Linked DNA regions of Homo sapiens. The protein of the gene in region 2 purifies or fractionates together with the protein of the main gene of each other region. This does not show direct contact. Each region holds a gene or a part of one and is shown on either strand. Other genes may lie near its edges. The genes, in order: DNAJB4, DPF3, CSNK2A2, DCX, PHF10, SS18 and PFKL.

What was found.
Region 1: the proteins of DPF3 (region 2) and DNAJB4 purify together in Homo sapiens (affinity purification with mass spectrometry, with the first as the bait; one study listed by BioGRID). This does not show direct contact.
Region 3: the proteins of DPF3 (region 2) and CSNK2A2 purify together in Homo sapiens (affinity purification with mass spectrometry, with the first as the bait; one study listed by BioGRID). This does not show direct contact.
Region 4: the proteins of DPF3 (region 2) and DCX purify together in Homo sapiens (affinity purification with mass spectrometry; 2 studies listed by BioGRID and IntAct, with this or other methods). This does not show direct contact.
Region 5: the proteins of DPF3 (region 2) and PHF10 purify together in Homo sapiens (affinity purification with mass spectrometry, with the first as the bait; one large-scale study listed by BioGRID). This does not show direct contact.
Region 6: the proteins of DPF3 (region 2) and SS18 purify together in Homo sapiens (affinity purification with mass spectrometry; 4 studies listed by BioGRID and IntAct, with this or other methods). This does not show direct contact.
Region 7: the proteins of DPF3 (region 2) and PFKL purify together in Homo sapiens (affinity purification with mass spectrometry, with the first as the bait; one study listed by BioGRID). This does not show direct contact.

Annotation. Positions count from the first base shown.
Region 1 is NC_000001.11:78,011,439-78,014,938, forward strand, and holds part of DNAJB4 (dnaJ homolog subfamily B member 4), read left to right. Parts: intron 1-1,612; coding exon 1,613-2,181; intron 2,182-3,500. UniProt on the Homo sapiens protein: Probable chaperone. Stimulates ATP hydrolysis and the folding of unfolded proteins mediated by HSPA1A/B (in vitro).
Region 2 is NC_000014.9:72,768,295-72,772,500, forward strand, and holds part of DPF3 (zinc finger protein DPF3), read right to left. Parts: intron 3,600-4,206; coding exon 3,439-3,599; intron 1-3,438. UniProt on the Homo sapiens protein: Belongs to the neuron-specific chromatin remodeling complex (nBAF complex).
Region 3 is NC_000016.10:58,166,655-58,170,860, reverse strand, and holds part of CSNK2A2 (casein kinase II subunit alpha'), read left to right. Parts: exon of another isoform or gene 1-391; coding exon of another isoform or gene 392-496; intron 497-2,167; coding exon 2,168-2,251; intron 2,252-3,065; coding exon 3,066-3,176; intron 3,177-3,552; coding exon 3,553-3,654; intron 3,655-4,176; coding exon 4,177-4,206.
Region 4 is NC_000023.11:111,401,958-111,406,163, forward strand, and holds part of DCX (neuronal migration protein doublecortin), read right to left. Parts: intron 1-4,206. UniProt on the Homo sapiens protein: Microtubule-associated protein required for initial steps of neuronal dispersion and cortex lamination during cerebral cortex development. May act by competing with the putative neuronal protein kinase DCLK1 in binding to a target protein.
Region 5 is NC_000006.12:169,707,029-169,711,234, forward strand, and holds part of PHF10 (PHD finger protein 10), read right to left. Parts: intron 3,364-4,206; coding exon 3,208-3,363; intron 1-3,207. UniProt on the Homo sapiens protein: Involved in transcription activity regulation by chromatin remodeling. Belongs to the neural progenitors-specific chromatin remodeling complex (npBAF complex) and is required for the proliferation of neural progenitors.
Region 6 is NC_000018.10:26,055,849-26,060,054, reverse strand, and holds part of SS18 (protein SSXT), read left to right. Parts: intron 1-2,312; coding exon 2,313-2,466; intron 2,467-4,206. UniProt on the Homo sapiens protein: Appears to function synergistically with RBM14 as a transcriptional coactivator. Isoform 1 and isoform 2 function in nuclear receptor coactivation. Isoform 1 and isoform 2 function in general transcriptional coactivation.
Region 7 is NC_000021.9:44,323,840-44,328,366, forward strand, and holds the end of PFKL (ATP-dependent 6-phosphofructokinase, liver type), read left to right. Parts: coding exon 1-79; intron 80-651; coding exon 652-816; intron 817-1,016; coding exon 1,017-1,078; intron 1,079-1,313; coding exon 1,314-1,425; intron 1,426-2,121; coding exon 2,122-2,221; intron 2,222-2,319; coding exon 2,320-2,425; intron 2,426-2,875; coding exon 2,876-3,023; 3' UTR 3,024-3,534; downstream 3,535-4,527. UniProt on the Homo sapiens protein: Catalyzes the phosphorylation of D-fructose 6-phosphate to fructose 1,6-bisphosphate by ATP, the first committing step of glycolysis.

The DNA.
Region 1 (3,500 bases), on a different chromosome or scaffold from region 2:
TTATTAGAATTTTTTTCACTCTCTGACACAGAGTTCTATTTTAATTCTTTTTTTTTTTTTTTTGAGATGGAGTTTTGCTCCTGTTGCCCAGGCCGGAGTGCAATGGTGCAGTCTTGGCTCACTGTAACCTCTGCCTCCCAGGTTCAAGCGATTCTCCTGCCTCAGCCTCCCAAGTAGCTGGGATTATAGGCATGTGCCACCATGCCCAGCTAATTTTGTATTTATAGTAGAGACGGGGTTTCACCATGTAGACCAGGCTGGTCTCGAACTCCTGATCTCAAGTGATCCACCCGACTCGGCCTCCCAAAGTGCTGGGATTACAGGTGTGAGCCACTGCACCTGGCCCTATTTTAATTCCTAAACAGTAAAAGATGATCTGAAATAAAACTAGTTAGAATGAATATGGTATTTTTATTACATTATATTTTTACATATTTCTATTTTATTTATATATAAACAGTATGAATATGGTATTTTATATTTTGCTATATATTTTATTAATATATTTATATTTTTAAATGTTATATATATTGTTTGATTGTAATAAAAATTAAAGATTTAAGTTCTGCACTTTGTGTTGATTGCTGAAGACCTTCCAACTGACATCTTTTAAAAACTTATATATTTATAAGTAGATACTTATATAATTTATATACTTCAGCATGCCAGATCAGTAGTTTATAAGGAGTTCCCAGTTTTATTTTCTTTTTCTTTTCTTTTCTTTTTTTTTTTTTTTTTTTTTGAGACAGAGTCTCACACTGTTGCCCGGGCTGGTGTGCAGTGGTGCGATCTCAGCTCGCTGCAACTTCTGCCTCCCAGGTTCAAGTGATTCTCCTGCCTCAGCCTCCTGAGTAGCTAGTATTACAGGCACCTGCCACCACACCTGGCTAATTTTTTGTATTTTTAGTGGAGGCGGGGTTTCACTGTGTTGGCCAGGCTGGTCTCAAACTCCTGACCTCATGATCTGCTTGCCTCGGCCTCCCAAAGTGTTGGGATTACAGGCATGAGCCTCTGCGCCCGGCCTTATTTTATTTTTCTTACTTACCCGTGGAACAAAGAATCAGGAATAAATATTAGAGATGCTGATTTGGCCGGAAGCAGTGGCTCACACTTGTAATTTCAGCACTTTGGGAGGCCAAGGCAGGCAGATCACCTGAGGTTGGGAGTTCGAGACCAGCCTGACCAACATGAAGAAACCTCGTCTCTACTAAAAATACAAAATTAGCCGGGCGTGGTGGCACATGCCTGTAATCCCAGCTACTCGGGAGGCTGAGGCAGGAGAATTGTTTGAACCTGGGAGGCGGAGGTTGCGGTGAGCCAAGATTGCGCCATTGCACTCCAGCCTGGGCAAACAAGAGCGAAACTCTGTCTCAAAAACACAAACAAACAAAAATGCTGATTTGGAGGAAGAATTTGAAAACTTAACAATTTAACTTAGGATGTAATCATCAAGAGTTTTATAGCTGTTCTGTATTTAGTAAAGTGGCATTTCTGGCCAATATTAATACATTTTAATGTAAGTTAGCCAAAATTTATTAGCAATACAGTTTTTGAAAGTTTAACTTTTAAGAGTTGCAAGCTTTTTTCTAATCATGCTTATCTCTTCAATTAGGGTTGAAAGGAGGAGCAGGAGGTACTGATGGACAAGGAGGTACCTTCCGGTACACCTTTCATGGCGATCCTCATGCTACATTTGCTGCATTTTTCGGAGGGTCCAACCCCTTTGAAATTTTCTTTGGAAGACGAATGGGTGGTGGTAGAGATTCTGAAGAAATGGAAATAGATGGTGATCCTTTTAGTGCCTTTGGTTTCAGCATGAATGGATATCCAAGAGACAGGAATTCTGTGGGGCCATCCCGCCTCAAACAAGATCCTCCAGTTATTCATGAACTTAGAGTATCACTTGAAGAGATATATAGTGGTTGTACCAAACGGATGAAGATTTCTCGAAAAAGGCTAAACGCTGATGGAAGGAGTTACAGATCTGAGGACAAAATTCTTACCATTGAGATTAAAAAAGGGTGGAAAGAAGGCACCAAAATTACTTTTCCAAGAGAAGGAGATGAAACACCAAATAGTATTCCAGCAGACATTGTTTTTATCATTAAAGACAAAGATCATCCAAAATTTAAAAGGGATGGATCAAATATAATTTATACTGCTAAAATTAGTTTACGAGAGGTAAGTTGGTAGGACCTAAAATCCTAAGACCAAATAATTATGTAGTTGATCATAGGGAGTGTATCTAGATAATAGCTAACATTTATTTAATGCCTATTATACGTTAAAAATAATTACTATAAAAATCCTCTAAGATAGTACTAGTATTATACCTCTTTTATGGATGTGATTATATTTTCTAACTTTAGTTACTTATAATTAAAGTGTCAAGTGTTAACTGGATTATGTACTATGAGGCTGCTTTTACAAATGTGGTTTATGAGATCTGCATTGGTAATCTCAACACATTAGTCTTTGTATATAGGGTTTGTTCTAAATTTGTTAATATGGAGTAATAATTGCATACCAAAAAAGATTAGAAGAAAATAATTTATAATTCACTACAAATTTGTATACATTTATATTAATAAAAAATACATTTATAAGTGCATATAAATATATACATTTATAAATTATAATGCTACTATGTTAATACAATTATTATTTGAGTTCTTATTTGCACTATTTCTTTTTTTTTTTTGAGACAGAGTCTTGCTCTGTCACCCACAGCGCAATCTCGGCTCACTGCAACCTCTGCCTCCGGGTTCAAGTGATTCTCTTGCCTCGGCCTCCTAAGTAGCTGGGATTACAGGCGCCCCCCACCACACCTGGCTAATTTTTGTATTTTTAGTAGACACAGGGTTTTACCATGTTGGCCAGGCTGGTCTTGAATTCCTGACCTCAGGTGATCCACTTGCCTTGGCCTCCCAAAGTGCTAGGATTACAGGCATGAGCCACCACGCCTGGCCTATTTGTACTATTTCTCAAATTGGATTGTAACTTTGCAAATATGGTCATAGCAGTTCCCTGCTTCAAATTCTTAAATTGCTCTATATAACCTCTACCATAAAGTCCAAACTCTTTAGCTTAAAATAAGTCATTTTAAATCTGATGTCTACCCATAAAATGTATATGCACTTCCCCAAGTTTGCTCTATTATTATTATTATTATTTTTTTGAGATGGAGTCTCGCTCTGTCACCCATGCTGGAGTGCAGTGGCACAATCTCAGCTAGTACTGCAGCCTCCACCTCCCAGGTTCAAGTAATTCTCCTGCCTCAGGTTCCTGAGTAGCTGGGATTACAGGTGCCCGCCACCATGCCCAGCTGATTTTCATATTTTTAGTAGCGATAGGTTTTCACCATGTTGGCCAGGCTCGTCTTGAACTCTTGACCTCAAGTAATCCGCCCACCTCGGCCTCCCAAAGTGCTGGGACTATAGGCATGAGCCACCGCACCTGGCCCAGTTTGCTCTATTATTATCTTGTATACTTGAGCTGTA
Region 2 (4,206 bases):
AAAATTATAACACTGGTATGGTTTTCAATGTATGTAAAGGAAATGCTTAAGACAACTATATTATAAAGGGAGGAGGGTAAAAGGATTTAAATAATGAGTGTTGGGTGGTAATAGAATAGTTTTGTATCTTGATTGTAGAAGTGGTTACACAAATCTAGACATGTGATAAAATGGCATAAAGCTACATATACACATTTTACCAATGTCAGTTTTTTGGTTTTGATATTGTAAGATGTATTAATCTTGGAGGAAATTGGATGAAGAAGATAGGGGATCTCTATTATATTTGCAACTGCAAATTGCAAATACAGTCACAATTGCAATTATTAATTATTTCAAGATAAAAGTTGATTTAATAAAGAAGAAATTATATGAATCCCCTCCCCACTCAAAAAGCAAACCCTGATAAGTGAAAGCAAAATGAAACAAATAAATCCAACTGTGTATTGAGTTAGTGGCACAATCACACAGAGGAACTATCTCAGTGACCTTAAAGGAGAGTAATTTGGCTGCACATGTTTAATGGAATATACCCTAAGGACAAAAAGACTTGCAAAAAAAAGAAAATATCTTAAACCTTTTTCAGTAATCTTATTGTTAATAGTCATATTGTTTGTTCTGATACTGTGTGTGAGTGTCTGTGTGTGTGTGTGTGTGTGTGTGTGTGTGTGTGTGTGTAAAATAAAGCAAATAAGTAATTACATCAATATCATTTCTAGGATTTTTTGGTGTAGGAGAAAGGAGATACAGAATTAAGATACTTAAGTAAAAACTGTTTAAATCTAAATTGAATGGGATGTATCAACATAATTTCATAATGTATTTTCTCTTAAAAAGAAAAAGAAAAAAACAAATGAATACTATTTCTTAGTTCTAGTCACTGATAAGGCCTAGAAACAATGACCAAGCCAGGAGCAATGAACAGCACTGCGGTCTCTAAGTAACTTTTCCTACAAACAGGAGCCAGGATTTCTTCAAGAAATAGCTGATTTCAGTCCTGGAGAGGAGGAAGTGTACAGGATGAGCTTGAAATATTTCATCCTAATATTAGGATGGCAAGAAGGCCATCAGAAACTACTGGGGTTGTTTCAAAACACCAGCACTGGGCCGGGCACGGTGGCTTACGCCTGTAATCCCAGAACTTTGGGAGGCCGAGGCAGGCGGATCATGAGGTCAAGAGATCAAGACAATCCTGGCCAACATGGTGAAACCCCATCTCTGCTAAAAATACAAAAATTAGCTGGGTGTGGTGGCATGTGCCTGTAGTCCCAGCTACTCGGGAGGCTGAGGCAGGAGAATCGCTTGAACCCGGGAGGCAGAGGTTGCAGTGAGCCGAGATCATGCCACTGCACTCCAGCCTGGCTACTGAGTGAGACTCCATCTCAAAAAAAAAAAAAAAAAAAAACACATCAGCACTGGCCAGAATCCTGAATGGCCAGAGATGAGGCAAGATAAGCCTCATAAGAATAATAGCTACACTGGATTAAAATACATCAAATATGTTTAAATCTGTGAGTTCCTGGTGGTATTCAAAAAAATAATTATTATTATATTGATCGTCTTTGGAGAATGCTAGGGAACCAACTCATTATTTTGAAAACTGGTAAATAGAGGGGAAAAAAGTCATTTATCCTGCCTTTCATATGTGAACTGTATCTCACAATAACTAAAATTTTAATGAGGGAATGTTTTTCTTTATAGAAGTTGTAGAGCTAACAAATGAAGATATAATGATAGTCCTGGATTGAATATTAACTTTTTGCAACCCTTAATGGGATAAAGAATCTAGGCAATTATCATGAAGGGCTGCTAACATCAGTAAAAGAGGTAACCAGACTGTATGAGCCTCTTGATGAAAGTACACACTACCACTCAGGAGTTGTTCTTACCAAAAAAAAATGGAACCTGAATAAATCTCTAGACCTAACTACCAATTCACAGTAATAACACCATGGGAACGCAACCAAATCCTTCTGGGAAACCCTACAGCGTAAGCAACCCAGTGTCTTCAACAAGTAACATGCAAGGAGGAAAGAGAGAGAGGCAGAGACAGAGAGAAACCCAGAGATGTTAAAAGACACATTAACCAGTTGCAATGTAGGGTTCCCATTTGGATCCTGATTTAAACTACAGGGGGAAAAATGAATGTTGGCCAAATATTTGATGATATTAAAGTCTTATTGCTAATTATTTGAGCTCTGATAGTGATTGTGAGTGTGTTTGTTTGTTTAAGTTCTTTACCATTTAGAGATACATAACAAAATATTTACAGATGAAATCACGTGCTTTTGTGGATTTGCTTCAAAATAAAATGAGGTCAGGGAGAAAAGTAAGGAGTGCGTATAGATGAAACACGATTGACCATGAGTTGAACATTGTTGAAGCAGGGCTACATGGGGATGTGTTTTACTATTGTCTTCAGTTTTATATGAAGGTGAAATTTTTCCAAATGAAACATTTTTAAAAACATATCCAGGCAGAGCCAGAAAAATCACATTCCTGTAGCTGTCTCCCTAATAAAAAGGTCTTTATTCTGTTCTTTGCAGCCTAGAAGACTAGTGTCACTGTAGCTGTAGTAATAACAGTAATATCAATAATAATAGGCCAGGTGCAGTGGCTCACGCCTGTAATCCCAGCACTATGGGAGGCCCAGGCAGGCAGATCATGAGATCAGGAGTTCGAGACAGCCTGACCAACATGGTGAAACCCCGTCTCTACTAAAAATACAAAAACTAGCTGGGTGTGGTGGCGCACGCCTGTAATCCCAGCGACTCAGGAGGCTGAAGCATGAGAATCACTTGAACCCGGGAGGCGGTGAGTCGAGATCGCACCACTGCACTCCAGCCTGGGCAACACAGCAAGAGTCCATCTCAAAAAAAAAAAAATAACAATAATAATAATAATACCCAGCATTTTGGAAGCACATACTTGCTATGTGCTAAACTCATTTAAGAGTTTTTATAAATTTTCTCATTTAATTCAGACGAAATCTTATGTGGTAAGTACTATTATTATTCACATTTTACAGATGAGGAACCTGAGGGACAGAAGTTTGGTGACAAAGGTAAGCCTCACACCCAGATCTAATGGCAGATTTCCGGCTTGTAACCAACACCCAAAGGTAAAAGATGAAGATTGCTGTCATGTCCTCAGTCTTGCCTTCTTTGGGATAAACACCTTTAGCTCTTTCACTCCCCACCCCACCCCACCCCTGCCACATGGCTTCAATGCCCCACACCATCCTTGTCACATTCCTTGAAACACCTGCCAGGAGCCATAAAAGTAGCTGAGCTTCTTTAAGGTATCTCAGAGGCCCATGTGCAGCTTGCCCCACCCCGATCCTACCCAGGCTGCCTGGTTTCCCAGACAAGCTGCGGTCCTCCTCCCTCCAGGCTGGGAGCCTGCACATGCGCATGTCCCAGGAGTGGCGCAGCTCACCTGGGCCTCGGTGCCTCTTCTCCATCCAGATGTAGCAGTTGTTCTGGGCCACCCCAGTCTGTGAGTCCAGGAAGGGAAGACGCACGCTGCGCTCTGCACACAGCCGTGAGTTGTAACTCCGGCAGTGCTCAATGGCTTCCTTGTAGAACTGGTCCCCGAGCCTGCCAGAGTCAGAGAGTGAAGGGGTGAGGCCAGGGAAGACTGAAACACACCCAGAGGGAAACACACCCAGAGGGAAACACACCTCCCTGGAAAGACTGAAGACCTCCCAGTTATGAAGACCAAGGCAATGAGCACCAAGAGCCTTGCCAATGAGCAGAATGCAACTCAATGTCAGGTCTTGACTAGATTTTATTTTCTATCCCAAATCCACCAGGCAACTTAGAAACTCCTTTAACAAAGAGCATGGGCTTCCAAGGATGAATCACCAGTAAGAGAGAGCTGTCCATGTTCTAGGAAGCATGAGGTCCCACTCCAGAAGGGAAGTAGCTCTGGAACAACCTTCTGCATGGAATCTAGAGGACATCACACTTCTAGAACCTCCTCACTCATATTAGCTACATTTTATTCTCAGAGGTCACCAGCAAAGGCACTCTAGGTGAACCCAAATCACCAGCAAAGATACTCAGTTTTCCATTACAACAGAAGAGAAACACTCCATATAAACAAAAACTAGGACAGAAAAAACATTCTATAAAAGTAGGGAAATTGCAGGAAGAAGGGGGTGTAGAGGAACAGGCACCAATCTTTTAAAACCATATTACTTAA
Region 3 (4,206 bases), on a different chromosome or scaffold from region 2:
TTTAGAAGCAAATTTTTACATTAAAAAAATGGAGCTTAACAATCTAATAAATGATTGAAAGATTTGAATCAGCATTTCTCCAAAGAAGATTTAGAATGGCCGGTAGACACATAAAAAGAAGTTCCACTTCATCACTCATTATGGAAATAAAAATCAAAACCACATGGAGATACCACTTTACACCCACCAGCAAAGCTATAATCAAAAAGTTGAACAATGACAGGTGTTGATGAGAATGTGGAGAAACTTGAACCCTCAGGTTGCTGGTGGGAGTAAAAGTGACGCAGCCACTTTGGAAGATAATTAGGCAGTTTCTTAAAAGTTTAAACACAAATTTAGCATACAACCCAGCACTTCCACCCCTAGGAATCTACCCAAGGGAAATGAAAGCATGAGTGGAAACAACCCAAATGTCCATCAGCTAGTAGTGGAATACTACTCAGCAAGGAAAAACAACTTGGATGAATCTCAGAAACAGTATACTGAAGGAAAGAAGGTAGACAAAGCACTATACATGTATGATTTCATATTATGAATGTACAGAAAAGGCAAATCTATACCAGCAAATAGCAGGTCAGTGGTTGTGGGCAGGGCACGGAGGGGTTGGGAGAAGTTAGGAAAGGGGATTGACTACAGACAAGCTCAAGAAAAATTTTAGGAGTGATGGAGATGTTCTAAAACTGGATTGTGGTAATGGTTGCACAGCTTTTTAAATTTGTGAAAAACCATTATATACATAAAATCTTATCTGCATATCAATCATCTTAAACAAAGCAATTTTCTCCCTTGGAATAATATGTAATGATAATTGTTTTTTTTTTGAGACCCGCTTTGTTGCCCAGGCTGAAGTGCAATGGTGCCATCTCGGCTCACTGCAACCTCCGCCTCTCAGGTTCAGGCAATTCTCGTGCCTTAGCCCCACAAGTAGCTGGGACTAGAGGTGCCCACCACCTTGCCTGGCTAATTTTTTGTATTTTTAGTAGAGGTGGAGTTTCGCCATGTTGGCCAGGCTGGTCTTGAACTCCTGACCTGAAGTGATCTGCCTGCCTCCGAAAGTTCTGGGATTACAGGCATGAGCACCATGCCTGGCCTTATAATGATAAGTCTTAAAGGCTAGCTGGCTCAGGGATTATATTAAGGAAAATACTAATACTTGGTCATCTAGAAAACCCACGTGGGACCCTTATGTACAAAATAAGCCATACTGAAAGATGTATTTGAATGTCATTCTTCATGTCCACATAGATGCTGGTCTGTCCTTTGAACCATTATGAGAGGTGACTCCAGTGAGGTTCCAAAGTCTGGTTTATCATCCCACACACACACCCCCCTCCCCACTGCCCGCCTTTCTTGCCCAGGCTGGAGTGCAGTGGCACCATCTCAGCTCACTGCAGCCTCCACCTCCCAGGTTCAAGCAGTTCTCCAGCCTCAGCCCAGTCGAGTGGCTGGGATTACAGGCACGCACCACCACGCCCAGCTAACTTTTGTATTTTTAGTATAGCCGTGTTGCCCAGGCTAGTCTCGAACTCCTGACCTCAAGTGATCCACCTGCCTCGGCCTCCCAAAGTGCTAGGATTACAGGCATGAGTCACTGTGCCTGGCCTCATCACCCCCTCTTTTAAAGAAATCTTCCTCGGCTGGGCACAGTGGCTCACACCTGTAATCCCAGTACCTTGGGAGGCCGAGGCTGGCGGATCACGAGGTCAGGAGATTGAAACCATCCTGGCTAACACGGTGAAACCCTGTCTCTACTAAAAATACAGAAAATTAGCTGGGCGTAGTGGCAGGCACTTGTAGTCCTAGCTACTCGGGAGGCTGAGGCAGGAGAAGGGCGTGAACCCGGGAGGCAGAGCTTGCAGTGAGCCGAGATTGCACCACTGCACTCCAGCCTGGGCGACAGAGCAAGACTCCATCTCAAAAAAAAAAAAAAGAAATCTTCCTCATAGCCCTTGCCATTCCCTTCATACCCCCTTTCTACCAGCTGTAGTGTGCAGAGAGAGCAAGGGGTGCCTTCTGAAGCACGCTTTTTTTCTCTTTCATTACAGGCAGCAAGCTGCCCGTTGGGGGACTGTATTCAAGTCAAGGTGTCACAAACAATAAGACTATGCTTGCGTTGGGGGATGGTAGAGGGGTTGCTTACTATTATCTGTGCTTTCTTACCTAATAGGCTCTGGATTACTGCCACAGCAAGGGAATCATGCACAGGGATGTGAAACCTCACAATGTCATGATAGATCACCAACAGAAAAAGGTACCATTACAGCCAGGCAGCAACAAGCTTGATTAAAAGGCTTAGAGCAGACCAAAAAGCTGTCCAGTGCCATGATGGTTTCTGTAGACCCGTGGTGGGTTTTTTGGCAAACTTTCGTTACTGTGATTTCTCCCATCTCCATTGTTGATTTCTACTTTGTATAGTGTAGTACACAAGGAAAGTAGACGGTTTAACTATAGTAACTAACTATAGTCACTTGTTTATTTTGGTCATAGTTTTCTGGAGGGCCTCAGAAAGAAATTACAGCTGGTGGTTTCTGCTTCATTTCTTGATGACCCGCAGACCAATCTGCCTGGCCTTAAAAGAACACTTGGGTCCCTCCTATTTTTGATATCCAACTCTGTTGGCCCTAATCAGTGAGTAAATGGATCATCTAGTATTAGACGAATAAATCATTAGAGCAATGCTTCAGTCCTGGAGTGGGATGTGTGTCCCCAGCCCTTTCACTGACGCCTGGAGCTTATAACGAAAAGCTATGAATGATGGGAGAATGTGTTACCAAGTGTAACTGCCTACAGTTTCTGAATGTGGGCAGAAAAAAAGGTTGAGCTCTGTTGATCTAGAGAGAGGGATGAACCAGGATAATTTAAAATTTTTTCAAAAAGCATTTCAAGTGTTCTGCTCTAAAAATGACCTCTTGCACGATTGCTGAAAATGTAATTTTTAAGCCAGTGCACCTGCTCACATTTTTTGTGTGGCCAAATGATTGTTACCTAATGTGATGTGGCCTTGTTCTAAGGCATAGGCGTCTAGAAACACTCCTTTCACATGTTTTTTTCTGTCCTATTTGTAGCTGCGACTGATAGATTGGGGTCTGGCAGAATTCTATCATCCTGCTCAGGAGTACAATGTTCGTGTAGCCTCAAGGTACTTCAAGGGACCAGAGCTCCTCGTGGACTATCAGGTAAACTTGTTAGCAGAGCTATTCTGGGTTATTTATACTTGCTTAGGGCTTTTCTGGTTTGCTGTTGATCTAGTCAGTTTGAATACACTCAAAACCCAGCCATTATTTCACCCTAAAATGCTGATTTTAGTTTTTTCTCAGCTAGTTTTTTGGGGGGACAGAGAAGTTTTTAAATCTAAAATATCTGCAAAGGTTAAATGAAGACTAGAAATTCAGATCATTTCTAGGAGCCAGGAAGTTAAAAAAAATTTTTTTTAAATAAATTATCTATGGCCATACCACCCTGAACACGCCCAATCTCGTCTAAAAAAGAAATTTATATCAGAAAAATGGATTTCTAATACCCTTGGCTAATGCGTTGTCCTTATTGCCTCAGATGTATGATTATAGCTTGGACATGTGGAGTTTGGGCTGTATGTTAGCAAGCATGATCTTTCGAAGGGAACCATTCTTCCATGGACAGGACAACTATGACCAGGTGAGCAAATGCTTTCTGGTTCTTATTTATTTGGGGGTGAATGCCAAAAAAATAGCATCCTTAGATAAGAATACTATCCTTGAGCCACTAAGTATCACTCAGTGTCTGCATATGAGCTTTTCTTCAAGATAAAGATCGCACAGAATTTTGTGTTTACCAGGTCCGCAGAAGTAGAGGCAGATAATGCCATCTATGCCAAACTTCCAAAGTGAATCTGTGAAGAAGTCAGGCACCTCCTTGTCTAATAAAACTAGATTTTAGTCATTAGATTGTGATGCCCTGTACTGGTCCACCTCTAGAAGATTATTATCGTAAGTTGTATTATTTTAAAGGCCGTTTGGAAATTTGCATTCATGTGAACTTCTTGTCCTTGGGTCTGTCTGCCTGCCCTGGACCTGGGTTTGTATCTCGTTCCTAGAGGTTTAGTGGTGTGGAAGTCTTCTGATTCCTTGGTGCAGTGTCCTCACGGGCTCATGGTGTGTTCTGTGCTCAGTGATTTGGTCAGTTTGTTTTGTGTTTCAGCTTGTTCGCATTGCCAAGGTTCTGGGTACA
Region 4 (4,206 bases), on a different chromosome or scaffold from region 2:
TGTGTATAAGTGTGTCCTCTACTCCTTATGCTACACTAGGTAGAGAAACTGTCTAAATAACAACCAGTACATATAAACACCTTAGCTTTTGCTTGAAAAATACTCTCATGTTTCTACCACTCACCCTTCATCTTTCCATCCTCTCAAAGGATGCACATAAGATCTGTGTATTCAGGGTCATCTTCACCAGTGCTCACCCTTGGCTGCCACAAGTAATGAGGTAAAGAAGTGAGAATACATTATACAGCCTGATTTATGGATTGGAAGGATCTAGTGTAATTTTCACATTTACCTTGGGCTAGAGGAAATGACTAATATCGCAAAAGAAATGCAGGGATCAGAGGCAAGAGGAGGGGACTGGACACCTGGGACTATGAGCTGAAGAAAATAGGAAGAGAGATAGGCTCAGCCTGGGGAAGAGAATACTGGAAAAGGTTGAATTCGTTGAGTAAAACACATTAGCCTCAAGGTATCTAGAAGTTCATTGAGAGGTTGAGCTGCAGAAACAGTGTGATTTAATCAGGCTTAAGTCATCGGTAATAACCCTAAATAAATAAATAAACCCTAGCCAGTGCACAGAAAGCATTAAACACAATTATAGTCTGATGGCTCTCCTTTGGTCTCAGCAGGAGAACTGCATTCAGAAACACCAGGTTGATAATTCACTCCCTTTGCAAATATTTATTGCTTTGCCATAGCACCAAATCCTTTAAGACATGTTAATGAATAAATTTCTCAGTAATGCTAAGAGAAGTTTCAGTCAAAATCTCTAGTGTACCTTTGAGGACATTTATGTGTGTGTGTATGTGTGTGTGTGTGTGCGTGGTGTGTGTGTGTGTGTGTGTGTGTGTGTGTGTGTGTGTGCGGAGGGGGAGGGTAAGTGGCATCCAACATAAGCAAAGTGACTTCCAAAGCTGCCCTCAGTCCCAGAGTTCTATCTTGACAGGGGGACAAAGGGATGGTTTTAAGTGAGGATAGGCACCCTTACCCACTTGGTGCATACATGGACACCCAGGATGAGATGGTCAATACCTCAGCCAAGAGAAGCTCTGATTTCTTTGACTCCCTTGCTGGTTAATTCAACCCAACCCAAGTAATTATAGGCTGGGGTCTTTAATTTTTGACTTAAAAGGATGAAGGAAGGGGCCCTTTTAGTGTCTCCATATATTCACAGCCAATAACCCCCATAACCCTAGAAATGGTCTCTTGACTTAGCAGTTCACCAGATTCACTGGCACCTTGCAGGAGGTCACTGCCTTTGAGTCAGATGTTTTCCATAACTTGTCATGTACTTTAAAACTGTCAGACAAATGGTGGTGTGGAAATGTGTGAAGCTATATATTTATGATTTCACTCATCCAGTCTCCTCTGGAGAGTCAGCTGTGTAGCCCTATTAGGACTTTGGACTTTTTTGCTCCCATCTCTTAAACCTCTTAAGCCTCTGGAGTATGAGTATGATTAACCGTCTCCAGATGAAAATGAACATGATGACTGACAGCTATAGTATCATATAGCACCCAAGAACTTTCCAGAGGGCCCAGCCTCAGCCAAATCTATGTTGAGCACCTTCCAGTGGTACATTTTAGTCACTCCACTCTCTCGTTGGGCTGAATATGGAGTAATGGAAAAAGCGCAGCTGATGTGATGTCAGTCAGGATGGGGTCCCCAACACTTCCTAGTTGTGCACTCTAACCTCCCTTGGCTTCAGTTTCTTCTTTGCAAAGCAAGGGTGATAATAAGAATACCTATCTTGTGGGGTTGTTGTGGGGCACAAATCAGATGATGGATAAAAAGTGTTCAACCCATGGCCAGGTGCGACGGCTCATGCCTGTCATCCTGACACTTTGGGAGGCTGAGGCAGGTGGATCGCTTGAGATCAGAAGTTCAAGAGCAGCCTGGACAACATGGTGAAACCCCATCTCTACTAAAAATACAAAAATTAGCTGGGCGTGGTGGCACATGCCTATAATCCCAGCTACTAGGGAGGCTGAGGAAGGAGAATCGCTTGAACCTGGGAGGCAGAGGGTGCAGTGAGCTGAGATCGCACCACTGCACTCTACCCTGGGTGACGGAGAGAGTGAGATTCCGTCTTAAAATAAAATAAAATAAAATAAAATAAAATAAAATAAAATAAAATGCTGATCCCAGAGCCTGGAACATAGTAAGCACTTGATAAATTTCTGTTATTATTAAGCCCCTAATCTTACGGAATAGAAGCGAGAACAAGAAGGAAAGAGCAAAGAGGAAAAGAGGAAAAAATTGCTGAGAGAAAGAGACTAAAAAGAGGAATAGAAGCTGAAGAGGAAAAAAAAGAGAAAGTATCAAGGGCAACCATCTAGGAACTGAGCTGTGATTATGATATGACATGAGCACTGCTGGGGGCCTGTGATTCAAGGATAAGATTTCCTGCTGGTTGGAAGGAGGCTTCCAGTTGTGGCAAATGCCAAATGTAGGAGATTTATGCTAACACCCAGTAAAGCTGCTGCTGCCTCTGCAGAGGCCCGCTGAGAGCAGGATATTTATCGTCGTCAAGAGTGATGACTTAGGAGTCACACAGACCTGGATTCAAATCTCAACTAGGCACTTAAAAGCTGTGTGACCTCAGGGAAATCACTTAATGTCTCTGAGTCTCAGCTTTGCCTTCTCTAAAGCAAAGATAATGCACTAGGTGACACCTGAGTCCCTTCTAGGTCCTAGAGTCTATAGGGAGGAATCTTCTCTTTTCCTTCTCAAACAGGCTTCAGAAAACAAAGCTGTTAGGATAATTAAATGTTAAGAAAATAGCTGCCCACCTCCAAGGACTCTTCACTTCTGCTAGAAAGACATCAAATGCTCTTCTTTGCTAGACTAAGACTTCCTTGTCCTGATTTTGCCAGCATTTTCAATGTCTGCTGCCAGAGCTCAGTGCCTCCTGCACTTCCTGCTGCCTGGCACTTGGAGCTGGATGAGGTGTGTCGCACCTTTACACAGTTGGGTTCCCATCCTGCCACAGCTTCCAAGGGCTATTTCCTACCAGCTGGGGGCCTAGAGGGAAAGCTGGCTTCACAGCCAAGCAGGGTGCAAATTCGCTGGAACTAAAAACCTGCTTTAGGGTGAGGGGATAAGGAATGAAATCATGGAAGCACAGCTGAAAGGGCAGAAATGAAACAAGCTGTGGGCTGGAGATGATCTAATGTCTACCTCCCTTCTCTTTAAGAAGGCTGCATTTTCAAAAGCATTTTATATATATTTGTATCTTCTCAGTGCAAAAGCAAGCTTCTGCCTGGGTTTTCTCCTCTTCTCCAGGGCTTCCTGACTCAAGAAGGAATATATTAAATGACACTTTACTGTATTATATTAAAATATTAAATGACATTTGATTATCATATCTATTAGCAATGCATCCCTCCCAGGTATCTTAAAATTCTTGTGTTTGACAATGTACTTGCTTTAGTAGTTAGAGAATAAATTAGTGAGAAGGTGGATTCATCTCAATGAAACATATGAGCTATGGTAAAAGAACTGGATCATAGCCAGTGTGACTACACAGCTCGGATTTTCTAAGACTGTTCCAATTGTAAATATTCTGTCCCATGGTCTGTGTAATAACTCTTGAACTTGTCTCAATTTGGGTTCAGAAAAGCTGGCTAGTCATAAATGATATCCCCAAGGTTGATCTGGATACTTACATACAAGAAAATGGGGAAAGAATTGGACCAGATATAAAGGGAAAGAGAAAGATTCTAAAAAAAATAAATAAAATAAAAAAATAATAAAAAAAACAAAGACATGACAAAAGGAAAACCCACCAGTGGATTTTATTCATTGACCTCCTTGGGATACAGCTAATGAGGACCATATCCTACATGGCTTCACTAAGACCCTCGGTGTACCCAAGGACTGTGGGAAAACTGACATCAATAACCTTTGATCCAAAATGCTTCCCTTGATACTTTCTGTATCTAGCAGAAAACCGTAGACAAGAGGCACTAGACAAAGGAGTGTCACAAGGCCAGAGTGATTATTAACCAATTATTTTTAAATTTCATTTATTTTTAGGCTAAAAATGTAATAATGTGGCCATTTGAAAACACAGTGTGTTCTATGCTCTATTATTCCTTTAAGATGTAAAAAGAAAAAAATTAAAACAGATTTCTGCACGTCTCAAAACTCCTACCACTTTAGTTAGGTGAATGGAACCATCAAGATCACCCAGTCTAATACTTC
Region 5 (4,206 bases), on a different chromosome or scaffold from region 2:
TCAAAAAGAATTTTTGGCTTATTTATTTAAAAAAAGTCAACCTTATACATAAATAGAATAAAAACAAGAACTCTAAACAATCACAAATGTCTCTACAAAATAATAAATATCATGGAAGTTAAACATACATATAAAACTTTACTATTAAACTAATCTCCTGTATGTATATTTTTATACCCTGCTCCCCCCAACAAAAGGATAGTGTCACATGCTCAAACCATTTAAGTCTTGCAGTGTAGTTACCCTCTGTTGTTACTGCTACATTCTAAACATAAGGTTCTCATTGTGTGTTCCTATACCTAAATAAAAAACAGCTAGGAAGTGCACTTCTATAATCCAAATTCTGGTTCAGTTATGATCATATCTGTACCTGCCATAATATACAGCAGAATGCTCTCTCTTAATCCATCAAAACTAAGAAATCTCTTGGTTATGGTACCTGTACTAAATGTAAAAGATATACTTATTTAATACTAATAGTTTAAGTTAGATACTGGCATAGTAAATACTCTAATATCTTTCACTAAAGTCAGGGAAGTAACCAAACAATATTAAATTCTAAAAACAGAACTCCTCACAGGAGATTCTTTACAAAACAAAAGCCAAAAGGAGTAAAACACAAGGGTAGTCATTCACATTCTAGAGCAATTCAAGTTCTACAATCATTAAAATATACATTAAACACCTATGATAAAAGGGACACCAAAAAATTCTAGGTTTATTTCTAAGTTTAAATCATAATGATTTGTTAAATCACTTAGTTTTTCTTACCCAACAGCCTTCATCTTGATGAAAAGAGGGAAACATGAGAGAAGGGGAAGAGAGACAGCTTTGTAGCATTTTCTACGATGAATGCTGCAGCTCGATATACAAAGCATCTGCCCTCTCTAAGAAGCCACAGTGCTGGCATCCAGGACTTTACACAGCAGATAACAACTGTGGCTTAGAGAAGCCAGTCTCAAGTGGATTGCACAGTTGAGGGAGGGGTTAATGTGCAGCACTCTCCACAAGACCAATGGAGCACACTCCTATGTGTGTCTGGTTTAGACAATCAGTTCTACTTCAAATAACTGCAACATCATCAGAGTATCACTATTGACAAGAAAACTGAAATACTCATCCTAATAGCTCTCAGCATCTCAAATAAAAGGCTCACAGTACACTTACTTTTCTACTTGAAAAACAGCCAAAGATAAGACTTTCATGGTAGCAATAATATAGTATAGATTTTAATTATTGTATTTATAGGCCGGAATCCTAATAATTATGCTTTAAATTTCAGGTTAATGTAACCTAAACAATACTGTTCTATGAATTAAGGGCAAGCACTAGTGAATCTTATTAAGCAAAGCATCAGATACATTACTTCCTTGAATCTCGTACTTTTTATATATAAACTATGACCTTTAGCTTGAAGTACCCTAATATTTAGGCACATCTTGGTTTATTAATACTTTTTATAAAGAGGTTAACTTTTAATAAGCATGTTCACATTAATGTATGATGACTAGATACTGGTTGTTCCCATCTTTGAAATACCTGAAACATTTTTAGGTACTAAAAATGTTCACAGATTATGTAAAATATAAATTTTGCATATCCTACTTGAGTACTATTAAGTTCAGTTAATCCATATGATTTCTTGTATACTAAATCAATGATAGTGTTGAATAGCTGATTTCCAGCCTGTATTAAAACATCTATTTCAATATTCTCTCTTTTTAACCCATGATCAATCAAGCTTACTGTTGCAAAGATCTACTTAGCACTCAAGAGTTAACAGGACACTGTGCTTTGAGCGGCCACTTCCATTTAAAGCTCTTAGCAGACCAGTAGAACACACTCATTCATGTATACTGCTTCTGAAATTTCATCTTTGGAGCTCACTTGCTTTCAGTTATTAAGCATTAATTTATATAAAGAAATTACATAAGCTATATATGTAAAAACAAGTACAAAAATCACATAGCTGCAGCCTATTGCAGCCACCCTTGGAAGCCAACCCTTGCTGAATTAAGCTTAAAATTTGCTTGCTATAGGCTACAAAAAAAAAAAAGAATTTTTAAGTTAATTACATAAAAGCATTTCCTAATAAAATATGAAATACACTAACTTAATGTCGCTTTTTTTACTTGAAGAAAGGTAAATGAACATGTTAGAACGTGTTCTAGTTAGTTTGAGGGAAAGGTGACTTACTTCAGCCTGTTCTTGTGAATTATTTACCACAATCACAGTTCTGACATACAAGGTGTTTAACAATTTCACTTGGCAAAACTTTCTCATCAGCTTACTCTAAAATTTTCCTTCAATACACCTTCATAAGTGCAATAAAAGCATGTTCTAATACATTTCAGACCAAAAGAATCAAAAGGTAGTCTATTTTACTACCACCATCCCAAATATGAAACTGTACAGCTAATTCTTCCTTTTATGATATTCTTAAATCCCTATATGCAAATAAGGCTACTCATCTCTCACCTCACCTTTTCTTCAGAAGAAAAGGGAGGGGCAGACAGAGGGAGGAAAAGTTCAAAATATAATAATAGTTGCTGACAACCTACTCCTTTACTCTGAGGATAATCAGATCAACAAGTTAACAAGTATGTTTTAATTCTTGCCATAGAATCATATAGGCTCTTTACCAAGGTTATGCTAAAAATCACTACAATGTAAGTAACAGGTTTTATTATTTTCTATCCCAGAGTTAGCTAAATTTAGCATATGGATCAAATAATCCTTAGATTAAACCCAGATCTTTCTTAATGAAAGGCACTAAAAAAAATGCAACTTAGTCTAACAGTATATCCACTCATACTTTATAGCTCAGCAGCTTTAGCTACACTAAATGCTGGGGCATTTAAAATGCCAAATAATTATGATCTTTACTCCAAGGAAAGAAAATATAAACTTCTGCCTATGAAATAATGTTTTAAAAACCCATACTTGCCTGGTTATTCTTTCAAAGAAAAAAAAAGACTTATAAATTGTACATATACAGAAAACAGAAGGTAAACCATAGCCAAAAGTGACAGAAAAGCCACCAAGGAAATAAAGCAAAAAAGAAAGCAGCGGACAAAGGGCACACCATAGAAGAACAGCTAGTGAGGTACAGCAGGCAGAAGCTCCACAATCGTGAAAGTCAAGTTAAAATATTTCAGGGAGAGGCTGGTCAGTAAAGAAGCTGAGTCAGGGGCTTTTTTCTTCTACCTTGTACCCAGGAACTGACTTGGACAGTACAGAACGTTTGGGACCATCTTTTCTTGGAGTGGCAGCTTTGTCTTTTGATTTCTGTCTTCCCTGGAAAGAGTCCTCCTGGCTGTCAGGAGGGCTTTCCCCTTCAGATACATTGCCAGAGGAGCTGTCCTGGAGTTTAAAAGGCAAAAACAAAGATTCTTTGGAATTAAGACAAATTTGAGTCTGGATTTTGAAAACTATGGAAAATATTCAAAGAAAGTTTTAAAGCTTTATCATTTTAAAAATAAAAAGATCATTCTAAATGTAAGAAAGCTTTTTCCAGTGGAGACTAAAGTAAGTTATGTTAAAAATCATTCCTCCTTCTTCTAAGTATATTATATAAAACTGATTCCATATCAGTGCCTTCATCAACTTTGTTTTCTGACATAAGTCACAAAAACACAATTATCCGCTTCAGCTACTATTACGGCACACAGCTTCAACATCATTTTCCGTCACAAGGGAACATATTTGTTTCATACAAAAATATATTGTTACAAATAAGTGTGGGTATTTTCACTGAGTACTAAAAGTCATTAAGAAGGTCCTTCAGGAAAAATGAAGCGCTGCAGTTAGGAAAAAAAAAAAAAAGTCCTTCAAGTACACATTTGTGTTTTCACAATGTTAAACTATGCAGAGCCAATCCCTCAACTATCTACAACAGGATCTGAAATATTTTATATATTCAAGGTTTAAGACCTCAGTATCTGATCATTTAATTCTTCATTTTATAATTTAAAATGTTCTAATTAGAACTTTCATATAAATTACAAAAATTATAAATTAAAAAATTAGGTTATCTAGAGCCTCCCTGATAAACACACACTGACTAGAAACATGAATGTATCTACTTTATCTTTTTTCTGGGTGTCCACTTATATACATAAAGATACCGAGACTCACACATTACCCCCTACCTCATTGTGCCCTCATTTTTTAAAATACAAAACTGGATTACACTGTGTGTGTATG
Region 6 (4,206 bases), on a different chromosome or scaffold from region 2:
TAGTATGTACCAGGAATGGAGTTGCTAGATCATATGGTAACTGTTTAAGTTCTTGAGGAACTGTCAAACTGTTTTCCACAGTGGCTGTACCCTTTTACATTTCCACCAGCATATATGAGAGTTGCAATTTCTATACATTGTTCACAACACTTGTTATTTTTCTGGACTTTTAATTTTTATGTTATTGCAGCTATCAAAGTGGGTGTTGGTCATTTATTTTTGTTTTTTAGAAAGCCTTGCAATTTTTAAGAGTGTTAGACCTTGTGGTTGAACAATTATAGAAGCTCTAGTTTGTGTTACTTTGCTCCAAAGAGAATTAAGTTTTCCTTTGGTATGTGAAGTACTAGGAGGTTACCTTGAATCTATTAAAGGTTGGTTATAAGACTTTTTAGGGCTGATCTATTTCAATTTCGACCTTACTCTTAAGGAGTAGCTGGCCCTTCTGTAGTCTCAACAGAGAGTTGGAGTTATTTATGAAGGCTCCTCTAACTTGGTGGGGCCTACACTCCAGTCTTTGTCTCCATATCAGTGAGCAGCAGCTGGAATCTCTGCTGAGCTCTTTAGCCTCCTACCTGCTATTTCGACTAGTTTTCTTGAATGTTTCCCCTCTTGTGGTCCTTTCTCTCTGGAAATTTATTCTTTAGTTTCCAGCTCTTTGATAGTCAAAAATTCTGACTCTTTTTTTTCCTTAGTCCAATTGGACTGCACTTTCTACTTGAGCTGTATTTCCCTGTTACTCAGCAAACTCAAGGAAAAAGCCAAGATAATTGTGGAGCTGGTCTTATATGCTTCCGTTCTTTCAGGAGTTGTAGCCCCTTCTGTTCCTCTTTGTGTAAGTCACTCTTTAGTGGCTTCAAACAGTTTTTACTTTTTGTCTAGATTTTATGAGTTTTATTTAGCTGAGGGTTAGTTTGATACAAGTTATTCTAGCATGGTGGTAACAGTAATGATGTTTTATTAGTTGAATTACAAGAAAATGACCTCACTATTAAGAGTGAGAACATGAATTTTTAACAGAAAATTTGGACAAGAATAGAGGAAGGAGGATTTCTGTTTTCAGACAGAAGAGGGTTAAGGTAGCCAGGTTTGAAGGATGATAAATAAGGATGATTAAAAGTTAGATAATATGACTCAAATTAGTGTTTTTTGTTTGTTTTTTTGTTTGTTTTGGTGAAAACTGAACAAGGTTTTTAAGTGTTTAAAGAATACAAGTTGGAGAAATAATATGAGAATTTAAGAGAAAATAAGAGCATTCATCTGGATTTAGTTGTGAAGAAATTAAAATTCTGATTTTAAAATGTGTGCTATTAGAGTAGACTTGTTTATTTCTGTAAATGTTAGTGATTATTAACTGTTTGGAGGTTTGAGTATTTAAATGTGATGGCCAAATAACAATGTGTATCTATTAAGTGTGCCAAAGAGAATTGTGTTCACAAAATGGAAAGGCATACAGTAACTGGCCATTTTTAAATGTAGGAGGAAGAGAACAACTGATAATACAGGAATGGACATTACATTTAGAACATCGAAGTAAAGAATAATGCCTCCCTCTCCTCCTACAAGATTAAAAATGGGGGATTGGAGCGAAACTAACCGTTTGCTTTCTCCACCAAAATATCCCTAAGAAGGGACCCAGGTGTGGCAGACCACCTCATATCTGTTTTTCCTTTTGCCCTTTTGTGAACTCTGAAGGTTAGTCAGTGGTTTTCTTCAAAATTGCATTAGGAAATTTGCCAAGGGCATCCTTTTGAGGCAGCTGTCTCTGTACCCTTGGAGGCCATCAGTAATGTTTCCAATCTATAGCAGTAGTCGGCACAAAAATGTTGAACTGTTGTCTTCATGTTTTAAAACATTCCTCTGCTGCCACTATCCTCCACCCCGAAATAGTGTAAAATATGGCACATTTTGGGACTTAGAGTCCTTTCATCATTTTTTGTTACTGTACATTTTTAGGTAAAATCCATCATTAATAAGTGTATCCAATACATCAATAATGAAAGGACATTTAATTTTTTTCACATAATTTAGATAATAATAGACACATTAGAAATGCTTAATATATAAATAAATGAGAATTTTTTGTATAGAATGTTAACATTTTAATTTTCACTACTGAGATTTTATAAAGTAAATATGCTTTAAAGTTTTGGGGGTTATTAACTATGTTCATGATGAAAATGCATTAGAAGAATTCGAAATGCATTTGTGTTTTTGTTCTTACTGCAATTTAGTAACATAAGCAACTCTTTTACCCTATGCATCTTTCGTATATTAGTCTGTTTCTCTTGTTTTACTAAACTGTCTTCTTTCAGCCACCCACACAGAATATGCCTATGGGTCCTGGAGGGATGAATCAGAGCGGCCCTCCCCCACCTCCACGCTCTCACAACATGCCTTCAGATGGAATGGTAGGTGGGGGTCCTCCTGCACCGCACATGCAGAACCAGATGAACGGCCAGATGCCTGGTAAGTTTTTCTCCTCTAAGACATTAACACCAGAGTTGCTTAGCAACTGAAACGACATGGGGGCTCAAGGGATACTAGATTGTTGATGACAAAACTGCTTTGAATGCCCCCGAGTACAAGCTCTCTTAGAGTTTGTTAGCTACAGAGCTACGTGACCTGTATTCAGTGTTTATCAGGCTGCCCTTGGGCTTTGATGTAGCTGACACACACCATTCCTCTGATGAACAGAACTGGCTAAATTTAGTCTGTCTGAAACTGCAATACAGTTGGCTTTAGAAGCTTTTTGGAAAAAAAGGCGTTGCACCATGGCTTAAGAATTAAAGTCTGTTTAAAAAAGATATTATAACATTTCCCTGAGTTTTTATTTACTTAAATATTGATTGATCTCAGAAACAGTATCACTGGGAAAAACACATGGGGAAAGAAAACAGTCTCTGAAGTGCTGGTGTATTTAGTATTTCCTTATTGATATTGAAGCTGAATCTAAATTTTTTTAATACATAGGTTTATAGCATAACATAAATATTGGAATTGATTTTAAAGCAAAAATTAAAGGCTGAAAAATAATGTAAACTTCCTTACATTATTTATACACTGAGCCATTCTCTTTTCTATTTGTCAATTTTAAGTGTAGGGTCACTAGGTTGATATGTTTTAAGACATTGGATGCTGATTTAGTTACCTTTGGCTGGTTTGAAATTTTAATCATACAAGTATCTTTACACTATTTTGTTTTTGTAACAGTAGCATCAACCCATGGCCGTAATTTTTGGTAGAATATTATCTACATTAGGTATCAGAATATTTTTACCTTCTAAGACAAAAGTTATTTTCATTGATAAAGAAGACATTATACAACTAGCAGTAATGGAAATAAAATAACAGAACAATTATTAAAATTAGTAATTGGCATCTTTAGGATACTGTTTTCTGTAGCCGATTGTGTTGATTGATAGCATTGGTGTCCAAGGATGATGGGTGCAGTAAGGAAACAAGAGAGCACAGAGCAAAAGAGGTAAGGTAGCCTGGCTTATAGAAGATTGAGGTGTGACTGATCATATAGGAGGGCAGTGGTGTTTCAGTGGCTGTCTCCTATTTCCTGCTAAGGCTTGCAACATATATGGCACACATCCAGTATGGAGGTAGGAATAAAGACATCACTGCTTTTCAGTTTGTAGTCATATTGTAGTCAAGAGAAAGCTTCTTGCCAAGTCCACATTTAGTTCACCAGGACACACTGTTTTTAGAACTGGAAAGGTAGTGATAGTGCAGGTTAGCTAGTTAGGAGTTTTGTGACTTTTTATGATGGTACTTTGAATTAGGATTTTGACTTAAATTCTCTGTGTAACATTGAAGCCTAAGGCCAAAGAAGCATTTGAGCAGCAGTACAGTTATGGTTAACATGACATTTTGGTTTTGTGTAAGGCCTTCTGAAGTATATTCTTTTATAAGCTAGTTATTATCAACCACTTATGACCTGGGTTGTTCAGAATACTATAGAGCTTCCGAAACAATAGTTAAGAATTTCTCCAGGCCAGGCGCGGTGGCTCACGCCTGTAATCCCAGCACTTTGGGAGGCCAAGGCGGGTGGATCACGAGGTCAAGAGATTGAGACCATCCTGGCCAACATGATGAAATCCCGTCTCTACTAAAAATACAAAAAATTAGCTGGACGTGGTATTGCACGTCTGTAATCCCAGCTACTCAGGAGGCTGAGGCAGGAGAATCACTTGAACCCAG
Region 7 (4,527 bases), on a different chromosome or scaffold from region 2:
CCCAGCCACCATCAGCAACAACGTCCCTGGCACCGACTTCAGCCTGGGCTCCGACACTGCTGTAAATGCCGCCATGGAGGTACGGGGCTCCTGGACACCGGCCTGCCATGCCCAGGCCCTTGTGGGGTGGGGCTGAGCCTACGGAGGCTGCTGGAGGGGATAGTGTGTGGTGAGCACCTGGGAGGGCTGCCAGGGTTGGGGTTTGTGGGGCACAGGCCCGGGTGAAGGGGCTCAGCTCCCTGCCATAGCCACTTCCAGGTCCAGGGGGGCCCTGCGTTGTTCCTCGCTACTGTGATGAGCTCAGATGGGGAGACTGAGGCGGGAATGTCCCTGCGCCCCAGTGCTGGGTAGTCTAAGAGCAGCGCCTGGCCTCTGTCCAAGGGTGCCAGGGACACCCCTGCCCACTCACAGCCAGTGTGTGTGCAGGCTGCTGTCCACTGTGCCCTGGGGGGTGGGGTCGCCTGGTTGAGAACCCCTGGTCCTGTGGGGCCCAGGTGGGAGGTGGGCCCAAGCCTGGTGCTGCTGGCTGTCTGGGTGCGTCAGCCCCAGGCTGGCTTTGGAGACACAGGGCTCCCTGCAGGGTAGCCATGCCGACGGCCTACAGGGAAGGGTGGGCACGTGGAGGACCCCCGACCCCCCCTTGTCCCCCAGAGCTGTGACCGCATCAAACAGTCTGCCTCGGGGACCAAGCGCCGTGTGTTCATCGTGGAGACCATGGGGGGTTACTGTGGCTACCTGGCCACCGTGACTGGCATTGCTGTGGGGGCCGACGCCGCCTACGTCTTCGAGGACCCTTTCAACATCCACGACTTAAAGGTGAGCCCAGCCCAGCCCCTGCTGCGGCAGACCTGCCGGCATGCCAGCCTGGGCCCCAGACACTCAGGCCGGCCAGCGCAGGGCAGGGCCCGGGCAGGTGGGACGCGTAGCCCAGTGCTCCTGCTGGCCCCGGATCGCCGGTCAGCCTGGAATTCCCTCCCCACAGTCCTCCGGCTCATCCGTGTCCGCCCCTCCCGCAGGTCAACGTGGAGCACATGACGGAGAAGATGAAGACAGACATTCAGAGGGGCCTGGTGCTGCGGTGAGGCTGCCGTGGGTCCCTGGCCACAGCTGCGCGTCCAACTCTCGGGGCTGGGGTGGGGCTGCTGAGGAGCGGCTGGGCAGGAGAAGGCAGGAGGGGTCCTTGGAGAGGGTGGGCCAGGGCGGCTTTCCTGGGAGCTGCCACTCCCTCTCCCAGGCCTGGCCCAGCGGGGACTCAGGATCGGGGGGAGACCTGAACTCGTTCCCGCCGACTCAGGCCCTGCTGCCCCTCTCAGGAACGAGAAGTGCCATGACTACTACACCACGGAGTTCCTGTACAACCTGTACTCATCAGAGGGCAAGGGCGTCTTCGACTGCAGGACCAATGTCCTGGGCCACCTGCAGCAGGTGTGGGGCAGGGGTGAGGCTCTGAGAGGCCTGCCCCTCTTTCCTGCCACCATCTGTCCCCGGCCCCAGGGGTCCCAGCCCTCACGGGCACCCACGGGCACTCCCGGCAGGCCCTCGGGCACGTGTGCCCTTCCCCAGTGAGGGGACCGAGGCCTGTATCTAGGTGAGGTCTCATTTCAAGAAGGGGTGGGGCTGGGGCTGGAGCCGGGGCCCGAGCCAGGGCATTCACATGCTGAGCCGAGCTCCCCACCCCTGCCAGGCCTCCCGCGGCCACTTCCGCCGAACCCCTCACCTAGATCCCCGCATGCTCCCTGCCTTATGGTGGCCCTGCAGGAAGCCCGCGTCCTGGGGTTTTCTGAGCCAGGGAGGGGAGTCAGGGTGGCTGGGCATGGGGCCCGAGGTGATGGGGCCCGAGGTGGGGCCGCTGGCTGCCGATGCAGGGCCCAGGAGTCACTTGACTTGGCCAGGGGCAGCCGACTGCCGGCCTCGGGAGGCAGCTTCTGGCCTGGACTTGGAGCTGGAGAGAGCAGGCAGGGTCCTCGATCGGGAACAGACGGGAACGGTGCACGGGTTGGAAGGAATGGGTGTTCACAAGCTGCCTGGGAGGCTCCCCGTGGGGATCCTGTCTGCACTGGCGTTGGCCTTGGCCCAGGCAGCCCAGGGGAGTCCAGGGAACCGGGCCTCACCTGTTTCCAGGGTGGCGCTCCAACCCCCTTTGACCGGAACTATGGGACCAAGCTGGGGGTGAAGGCCATGCTGTGGTTGTCGGAGAAGCTGCGCGAGGTTTACCGCAAGGGTAGGTGGTGGGTGCGACCCGAGGCCTCACTTTGCCCTCCCCTGGCTCCCTGGGGCAGGGCCTCACCATGGAGGGCTGCCACGTGCCTCTGTTTGCAGGACGGGTGTTCGCCAATGCCCCAGACTCGGCCTGCGTGATCGGCCTGAAGAAGAAGGCGGTGGCCTTCAGCCCCGTCACTGAGCTCAAGAAAGACACTGATTTCGAGTGAGTTCCACCAAAGCCTCGTGGAGGCGGGTGGGGCTGAGGGGTGGCCCAGACCTTCCCTGAGGCAGGTGTGCCAGGCCCAGCCCCACTGGCACCCTGACCCCGCAAGGCCTCCTGGGCCCCCATGCCCAGGTCCCCGCCAGGCCGTGGAGAGCAGGGACCATGCCCAAGTCTTCTGAGCACAACACTGGGCAATCCTTTCGGGTGGGCATGGGGGCACAGCGGGTAGCCAGGAGTGGGCACGCTTGAGGGCGGCTGAGGCTGACTCTGTGCTGTGCCTCCGAGGGATGGGGACCCCAGACCTGTCCCAGCTCCACGGATACCGAGATGTTCAGACAGAGGGGCATGCACAGGCTGCAGGGTCGGGGGGGGTGGGGGGGCTGGGGACGTGGCTGAAGAGCTGCCCTGACCCCTGACTCCCCATCATCCTCCCATCCCCGTCCTGCACAGGCACCGCATGCCACGGGAGCAGTGGTGGCTGAGCCTGCGGCTCATGCTGAAGATGCTGGCACAATACCGCATCAGTATGGCCGCCTACGTGTCAGGGGAGCTGGAGCACGTGACCCGCCGCACCCTGAGCATGGACAAGGGCTTCTGAGGCCAGCCATGCCCACGCCCCTCCCCAGCCCCCACCCATGCCAGCGCAGCGCCAGGGCTCAGATGGGGCCTGGGCTGTTGTGTCTGGAGCCTGCAGGCAGGTGGGGGCTGCGTCCCTGCTCAGCCCATCCCCTGCCTCTATCCCTGGCCACCTGCCAGGCCTCCCTCGGGCTGGTGTCTTGAGACCAGCCTGCCAGGCCCTCCAGCAGGAGGACAGAGTGCCCTGGGGCATCCACCTTCCTGCCCAGGGGACGTGGCGCTGTCGGTGTTTGGAGGCTGCTGCCCCCTGGCTTTGGCGCCCCATGGGCCCTCAGCGTCTCCCCATGCTGGGCTCACTACATGGGCCAGCCCTTGCTCTACCTGGCCGGTAGGCTGCTGGCGCCTAGGTTGTGTTGAGAGGGGGATGCCCCTGGCCCTGCCTCACTGTGACCTGCTCCTGCCCACGTGCAGCACCTGTCACCTTTTCTAGAAATAAAATCACCCTGACTGTGGGGTGCATCGGTCTCCGGAGAGCACAGCCTGCAGAACTCCTCAGAGAGAGGGGGGAGCAGCACCGAGCGGCCAGCCCAGTGGGCAGCAGCCCCAGGGGTGGAGGGCCCTCTGGCCAGTGCCTGGGCCAGGTCAAAGGGACATGTGCCCTGAGAGGCCACAGGTGCTCTCCAGGACTCCCTGGGGGCCACCAGGGTGACCTGAGCCCCTCCTGGTCCTCCCCTGGGGGCAGAAGGGTACAGCCTCACTCCTCTGTCTCCCCAACCTCAGCCTGAGTGGGGGTCTCCAACCTGCAGGCTGGTGGCTGGCTTGAGCCAGTATCCAGGAGACATTGATGGTGGACACGCAAGAGGGGAAAAGAAGGCAGCGCAGAGCTGCGCCCACCAGGGGCTAGGGCTGAGTCCTGCAGGCGGCTACGGGGTGGTGGACGCCCTGCTTGCAGGATGCCTGTTAACCTCAGCGTCGAAGCCTGCGCTCTGCATCATGAACGTGGGAGGTGCTTGCCCAAGAGGGCTGCTTCCTGCCCGCAGTGCCACCCTGGGGATGTGGTTTTGGGACACAGGAGGTGTCTCAAGGGAGACCCTGGCTTGGAGGGGCCTAAGGGCCACTTTGAGGGCCCCTGGGCAGTCTCCTGGTTGAGCTCAGGCCAGTGGGGTGGCCTAGGGACCTGGTGAAGGGGCTGGGGACCCTCTTGCCCTCGGGCACCTTGATATTCCCAAGAGCCCCTCACTGTGTTGGCCCTAGTGCCGGAGGCCTCCAGATTGCTTAACTCGAGCTGGGGTGGAGGGGCCCACACCTAGTGGCCTTCTAGTTCATTCTGAGCTGGGCCATCCTGGGGCCAGGCCCAGGAGTGGACAGTTGTCCAAGGACAGTGCTCCGGGGTCTGCAGCTCTGTCTCAAAGGAAGAGAGAAACAGGTTCATAGGCCCAGGGAACCACACAGGCATGCTCTGGGGGCCTCCGTTGTGTCACACCGTCTGGGATCAGGACTCAGTTCTGAGTAGACCCCCTCGGCCT